2 linked regions of the Homo sapiens genome follow. The protein of the gene in region 2 purifies or fractionates together with the protein of the main gene of each other region. This does not show direct contact. Each region holds a gene or a part of one and is shown on either strand. Other genes may lie near its edges. The genes, in order: UBE2G1 and CYP3A4.

What was found.
Region 1: the proteins of CYP3A4 (region 2) and UBE2G1 purify together in Homo sapiens (affinity purification with mass spectrometry, with the first as the bait; one study listed by BioGRID). This does not show direct contact.

What each region holds. Positions count from the first base shown.
Region 1 is NC_000017.11:4,356,388-4,360,212, forward strand, and holds part of UBE2G1 (ubiquitin-conjugating enzyme E2 G1), read right to left. Parts: intron 1-3,825. UniProt on the Homo sapiens protein: Accepts ubiquitin from the E1 complex and catalyzes its covalent attachment to other proteins. In vitro catalyzes 'Lys-48'-, as well as 'Lys-63'-linked polyubiquitination. May be involved in degradation of muscle-specific proteins.
Region 2 is NC_000007.14:99,774,136-99,777,960, forward strand, and holds part of CYP3A4 (cytochrome P450 3A4), read right to left. Parts: intron 1-3,825.

The sequences.
Region 1 (3,825 bases), on a different chromosome or scaffold from region 2:
AAACGTTGTTTACATAGTGCTACTAAATGTAGCACCTCAAGGTAGGGATATCACATCAATTACCTTTGCGTTCCCGCAGCATCTCAATACAACGGCATATAAGGGCTCAATAAATAAACTTTTATGCTGATCCTTTATTCCATTTTCCAAGCAACCACACAAGTTTAAATGAAGACTGCTATTTAAAATTAGGATGGTAGCTGTGCGTGGTGGCTCATGCCTGTAATCCCAGCACTCTGGGAGGCCAAGCCAAGAGGATTGCTTGAGTCCAGGAGTTCAAGACCAGCCTGAGCAACACAGCAAGACTTTGTCTCAAAAATAATAACAAAAAAATAAAATTAAGACGGAATTTCTGTCTTAAACTACAGGTTTCTCTATTTCAACTTCCTGTTCCTTGAACATGTTAATAGAGCAACCATGTAGTTGTATTTATAACTACAAATATTAAGTTCTTTATTTGAAAAAGGATTGATAATAATGCATGGTTACAGGTGACTTTTTTTAAAAACTTCTTATTCTGAAATACAGTCCCATAGGACAAGGGGGAACTGTACAGAAAGGTTTCCTGTAACCTTTACCCAGTTTCTCCCAAATGCTAACACCCTGTATAACTCTAGCACAATATCAAACCCAAGAAATCGACAGTGGTGCAATCCATATACTTTATAGTCCCCCCACCCCTGCCCCATCGGCATTTTCAATTACTTGTGGTCAAGCCCAGTCTGAAAATATTAAATGGAAAATAACAGAAAAAATAAACAATTCCTAAGTTGTAAATTTTGTGTTGTTCTAAGTAGCATGATGAAATCTCACACTGTCCCTCCTGCCTATCACTTAGCAGTGCCTGGTTTCAAGTAACCCTTATTTTACTTAATAATGGCCCCAGAGTGCAAGAGTAGTAATGCCGGCATATTGTTATCATTGCTCTGTGTTATTATTGTTGTTAGACTAACATAAATTAAATCCTATCATAGGTATGCATATATAGGAGAAAGCACAAGGTTCAGGACTATCAGTGGTTTCAGGCATCCCCTGGAGGTCTTGGAAAGTATTTATCCCATGCAGATAAGGGAGGACTACTGTATTCAGATGTCATCACTCGGTTGTGTGTGTGTGTGTGTGGGGGGGGGGGGTGGGTGTATAACTCTATGCAATTTTATCACATTTGCAGATGTGTGTAATCACTATCAAGATACAAGACTGTTCATCACCACAAAGATCCCTCATGTTACTGTATACCACATATCCCTCATGTCCCTAAATCCCTGAACACCACTATTCTCCATCACTGTAATTCTGTCATTTCAAGAATTTTATACAAAGGTGCCAAGACCACCCATAAAGAAGGACAATCTAGCCAAGATCCCACCACTGCACTCCAGCCTGGGCAACAAGAGCGGAACTCTGTCTCAAAAAAAACAAAAAAAATAGACTGGATGTGGTGGCTCACACCTGTAATCCCAACATTCTGGGAGGCCAAGACAGGAGGACTGCTTGAGCCCAGGAGTTCAAAACCAGCCTGGGCAACACAGCAAGACCCCATCTCTATTTTTATAAAAAATTTTTAAAAGATATATGTAGACACAAAGAGAGAGAGACCCTGTCTCTTAAAAAAGAAAAAAAAAAGCAAGCTGTTTTCTATCTATAGTGGATATACAATTATACATTCCCACCAGCAATGTATAAAAGTTCAAGTTTCTCCAAGTCCCTGGCAGCATTTAGTGTTACAGTTTTTTTAATTTTAACTATTCTAACAGGTAAGTAGTGATATCTTACGGTGATTTCAATTTGCATTTCCCTGATGTCTAATAATGTTGAACATGTTGTCACTTGTTTGCTATTTGTATGTCCTCTTCAGTGAAATGTTTCTTGGTGTCTTTTGCCCTTATTTTTTAGGCAGGGCCTTGCTCTGTGGCCCAGGCTGGAGTGTAGCGGTGGTGAAGTCACAGCTCACTGCCGCCTCAAAATCCCCATCTCAAGCGATGCTCCTATTCAAGCCTCCCTAGTAGCTGAAACTACAGATGAGAGCCACCACACCTGTCTAATTTTGCCCATTTTTTTGAATTGACTTTTTTTTTTTAAACTGTTGAGGGTTCTTTAAATATTCTAGATACAATCAGTTGCCAGATATGTGATTTGCAAATGTTCTTCCAGTTTGTAGCTTGTCTTTGCATCCTCTTAACAGTCTTTAATCAGGTAAAAATTCTTAATTTTCATGATGTCCAGTTTACTAATATTTCCTTTTATGGCTCATGCTTTTGGCATCAAGTTGAAAAAGAACTTGGCTGGGCGCGTGGCTCACGCCTGTAATCCCAGCACTTTGGGAGGCTGAAGCAGGTGGATCACCTGAGGTCAGGAGTTCAAGACCAGCCTGACTAATATAGAGAAACCCTGTCTCTATTAAAAATACAAAATTAGCTGGGTGTGGTGGCCCATGCCTGTAATCTCAGCTACTCGGGAGGCTGCAGTGGGAGAATCGCTTGAACCCAGGTGGCAAGAAGTTGCGGTGAGCCGAGATCGTGCCACTGCACTTAAGCCTGGGCAACAAGAGCGAAACTCCATCTCAAAAAAATAAAATTAAAAAAAAAAAAGGAAAAAGAACTCTTTGCCTAGCATTACTCTGTCTTAACATAGAAACCCTAGAAAATATATACCTTACATAAGAATATGATAATGTAATTAAAATGCATGTACATTCAAAAGCAAAGGAAAAGTGTCTCCTGACATAAAGAACTTTTTTAAAAATTCCTATTTGATAAAAGGAAAAGTGTCTCCTGACATAAAGAACTTTTTTAAAAATTCCTATTTGATAAACTTACTTAAAAGCAGTCTTGTTTTACAAGATTAAAGCAAACAAACAACAAACAGCTGCCAGGTAAAAATTTAAGGTCTTTGTTTTTTGTATTTTTAACATATCCCTAGCCAATAGAAGAGTAAATAAGAATAGCTAAAGGAAAAAAAGCAAAGATACAGCAATAGCAGTTTTTCTAAGTCACTGGACATGGGTATAAAGGTTAAATAAAAGGTAAAATAAAATATTTCCGCTTACAAAAATTAACTTGTTGCAAATCTAGAACATAACTTTATAAAAAGAGGTATACATCTCTACAGCAACAGCAATACAGTACAGTATTTCTTCCAGAAGTTTCTATGAGGGCCAGAATCTATCAATGGAACAGCACTGATAAAAACTTCTGATTAGACCGGGCGCGATGGCTCACGCCTGTAATCCCAACACTTTGGGAGGCCAAGGCAGGCCAAGGAGACCATCCTGGCCAACATGGTGAAACTCCATCTCTACTAAAAATACAAAAATGATCCAGGGGTGGTGGCGTGTGCCTGTAGTCCCAGCTACTCAGAAGGCTGAGGCAGGAGAATCACTTGAACCCGGGAGGCAGAGGCTGCAGTGAGCCAAGATCTCGCCACTATACTCCAGCCTGGGCGACAGAACAAGGCTCCATCTCAAAAAAAAAAAAAAAACAAACAAAAAAAAACTGCTGATTAACTCAAATTAGCCCAATACTATCTTGCACTAGGGGGAAAAAGTTTAGAATGTTTTATTGTAACATTTAAATATCTTATTTCCTGAAACTACATTTTATTCTTTATCATTTATCTGTTTATACCAATAATTCATATTCATTACCAAAATTTGGAAAATGTTTGCTTTTTCTGATTTGTACTTTTCTGTACCTGAAATGCTATTAACCATATAAAACTACACTATGTTTACCTTGCCAGATTTGTTTCCATAAGCCCACACTTCCTTCTCTGAAAAGTTATTTCCTACAAACCAATGAAAGGTAACATTAGACACACCCTTAG
Region 2 (3,825 bases):
AAACCAGGAAGAAGTTGAATCTCTGAATAGACCAATAATAGGTTTTGAATTGAGGCAATTATTAATAGGCTACCAACCAAAAAAAGTCCAGGACCAAATGGATTCACAGCTGAATTCTACCAGAGATACAAAGAGGAGCTGTTATCATTCCTTCTGAAATTTTTCTGAACAATAGAAAAGGAGGGAATCCTCCCTAACTCATTTTATGAGGCCAGTATCTCCTGATACCAAAGCCTGACAGAGACACAACAAAAAAAGAGAATTTTAGTCCAATATCCCTAAAGAATATCGATGCGAAAATCCTCAATAAAATACTGGCAAATCAAATCCAGCAAAACATCAAAAAGCTTATCCACCAGGATCAAGTCAGCGTCATCCCTGGGATGCAAGGCTGGGTTCAAAATACCAAATCAATAAATGTAATCCATCACATAAACAGAACCAATGACAAAAACCACATAATTACCTCAATAGATGCAGAAAAGGCCTTTGACAAAATTCAACAGCCTTTCATGCTAAAAACTCTGAATAAACTAGGTATCAATGGAACGTATCTCAAAATAGTAAGAGCTATTTATGACAAACCCACAGCCAATATCATACTGAATGGGCAAAAACTAGAAGCATTCCCTTTGAAAACCGGCACAAGACAAGGATGTCCTCTCTCACCACTCCTATTCAACATAGTGTCGGAAGTTCTGAATAGGGCAATCAGGCAAGAGAAAGAAATGGATATTCAATTAGGAAAAGAGGAAGTCAAATTGTCTCTGTTTGCAGATGACATGATTGTATATTTAGGAAACCCCATCGTCTCAGCCCCAAAACTCCTTAAGCTGATAAGCAACTTCAGGAAAGTCTCAGGATACAAAATCAATTTACAAAAATCACAAGCATTCCTACACACCAATAATAGACAAACAGAGAGCCAAATCATGAGTGAACTCCCATTCACAATTACTACAAAGAGAATAAAATATCTAGGAATCCAGCTTACAAGGGATGTGAAGTTCTCCTCTTCAAGGAGAACTACAAACCGCTGCTCAATGAAATAAAAGAGGACACAAACAAATGGAAGAACATTCCATGCTCATGGGTAGGAAGACTCCATATCATGAAAATGGCCATACTGCCCAAGGTAATTTATAGATTCAATGCTATTTCCATCAAGCTACCACTGACTTTCCTCATAGAATTGGAAAAAACTACTTTAAAGTTCATATGGAACCAAAAAAGAGCCCACATAGACAAGACAATCCTAAGCAAAAAGAACAAAACTGGAGGCATCACGCTACCTGACTTCAAATTATACTAAAAGGCTACAGTAACCAAAACAGCATGGTACAGGTACCAAAACAGAAATATAGATCAATGGAACAGAACAGAGGCCTCAGAAATAACACCATGCATCTACTACCATCTGATGTTTGACAAACCTGACACACAAAAGCAATGGGGAAAAGATTTCCTATTTAATAAATGGTGTTGGTGAAACTGCCTAGCCATATGCAGAAAATTGAAACTGGACCCCTTCCTTACACCTTATACAAAAATTAACTCAAGATGGATTAAAGACTTAAATGTAAGACCTAGGACCATAAAAATCCTAGAAGAAAACCTGGGCAATACCATTCAGGACACAGGCATGGGCAAAGGCTTCATAAATATAACACCAAAAGCAATGGCAACAAAAGCCAAAATTGACAAATGGGATATGATTAAACTAAAGAGCTTCTACACAGCAAAAGAAACTATCATCAGAGCAAACAGGCAACCTACAGAATGGGAGAAAATTTTTGCAATCTATCCATCTGACGAAGGGCTAACATCCAGAATCTACAAAGAACTTAAACAAATTTACAAGAAAAAAAGCAAACAACCCCATCAAAAAATGGGCAAAGGATATGAACAGACACTTCTCAAAAGAAGACATCTATGCAGCCAACAGACATGTGAAAAAATGCTCATCATCACTGGTCATTAGAGAAATGCAAATCAAAACCACAATGAGATACCATCTCATGCCAGGTAGTATGGTGATCATTAAAAAGTCAGGAAACAACAGATGCTGGAGAGGATGTGGAGAAATAGGAACACTTTTACACTGTTGGTGGGAGTGTAAATTAGTTCAACCATTGTGGAAGACAGTGTGGTGATTCCTCAAGGATCTAGAACTAGAAATACCATTTGACCCAGCAATCCCATTACTGGGCATATACCCAAAGCATAAATCATTCTATGATAAAGACACATGCACACATATGTTTATTGCAGAACTATTCACAATACCAAAGACTTGGAACCAACCCAAATGTCCATCAGTGACAGACTGGATAAAGAAAATGTGCCACGTATACCCCATGGAATACTATGCAGCCATAAAAAAACAATGAGTTCATGTCCTTTGCAGGGACAAGGATGAAGCTGGAAACCATCATTCTCAGCAAACTATCACAAGATCAGAAAACTCAACACCACATGTTCTCACTCCTAAGTAGGAGTTGAACAATGAGAACACATGGACACGGGGAGGGAAACATCACACACTGGGGCCTGTTGTTGGGTGGGGGGCTAGGGGAGAGATAGCATTAGGAGAAATACCTAATGTAGGTGACAGGTTGATGGGTGCAGCAAACCACCATGGCACGTGTATACCTATGTAACAAAACTACACATTCTATGCATGTAACCCAGAACTTAAAGTATAATTTAAAAAACTAAAAATAAAAAATAAAATAAAATCACAGTCCATCAGCCCGCCAGTGGTTAAGAATATTCAGCATTTCTTCAAATTCAGCAGGAAGGTATAGACAAAGAAATGCTTATATACCCTTCTATTAAAAAGTCTTGGCTTAAATTTAATAACAAAACAGAATGAAAAGTTCCACACTTGCAGATAAAATTAAAAAACAACAACAGCAGAGTATAAATGGTTTGCCAATCTATTTCTCTATTATCTCTCAACCCTTCATTCAAAAGCACTTTAAATCCAAAGTCTAAATGAAAGAGTTTTGGCTTTTAATTGAAAGTGAATTGATGTGGGAAGGAGATGATATGATGTATTTATGAGCACATATTAGAAGGGTCTGAGACAACACATGTAATAAAAGGGCACCTAAGGAAAAAAAAAAAGAAGAGGGGAATAGGCAGACACTGGACAGAGCATGATGCTGTGAGTCCCTGGGCCACCAAAGTCTGGAGAAAAGTAATCACAATGCTCCCAGCCTAGTTCAGACTGTAGAACTTGACACCTGGTGACACATGGGATCCTTGGTAGGACAACCTTCGAAAAGTTTTACAATAACCAGTGTGAATGTTGTTAGAACCAAAATGATGTCACTAGTTGTGTGTGTGTGTGTGTGTGTGTGTGTGTGTGTGTGTGTGTGTAAAAACCCTGACAAATAAATCAAAGAAGGCTATGAAGAGAGGATTCTCATGCTTGTGTGCCTGATAACAAAACTATCACAAAAGACTCCGCAAAACTACAAGCTTGCACAAAGGCCATCCCAACATTAAAAAAAATATTTCTGCAAGGACACCTGCCCAGCAACTGCCTGTCCAACCTTGGTGAGGCGTCACCCTTGTTACTGATCTTTGTAGCGAAGGATAATTATTTCAAAACTGATAAGAAATCCTCCTCATATTTTCCTTGGAGCCTCTTTGTCTTGCTTTACTTCCCTGAATTTGCACATAGTTTATAAAGGCATGCAGATTCCCATTGCAATACTCTACACCCAAATAAATATCTTCTTCTTTCAGAGAACTTCTCTCTGTTTGTAGTTAGGTTGACAAGAGCTTCATCCCAAGAGGCTTTGGGCTGAGACTGTC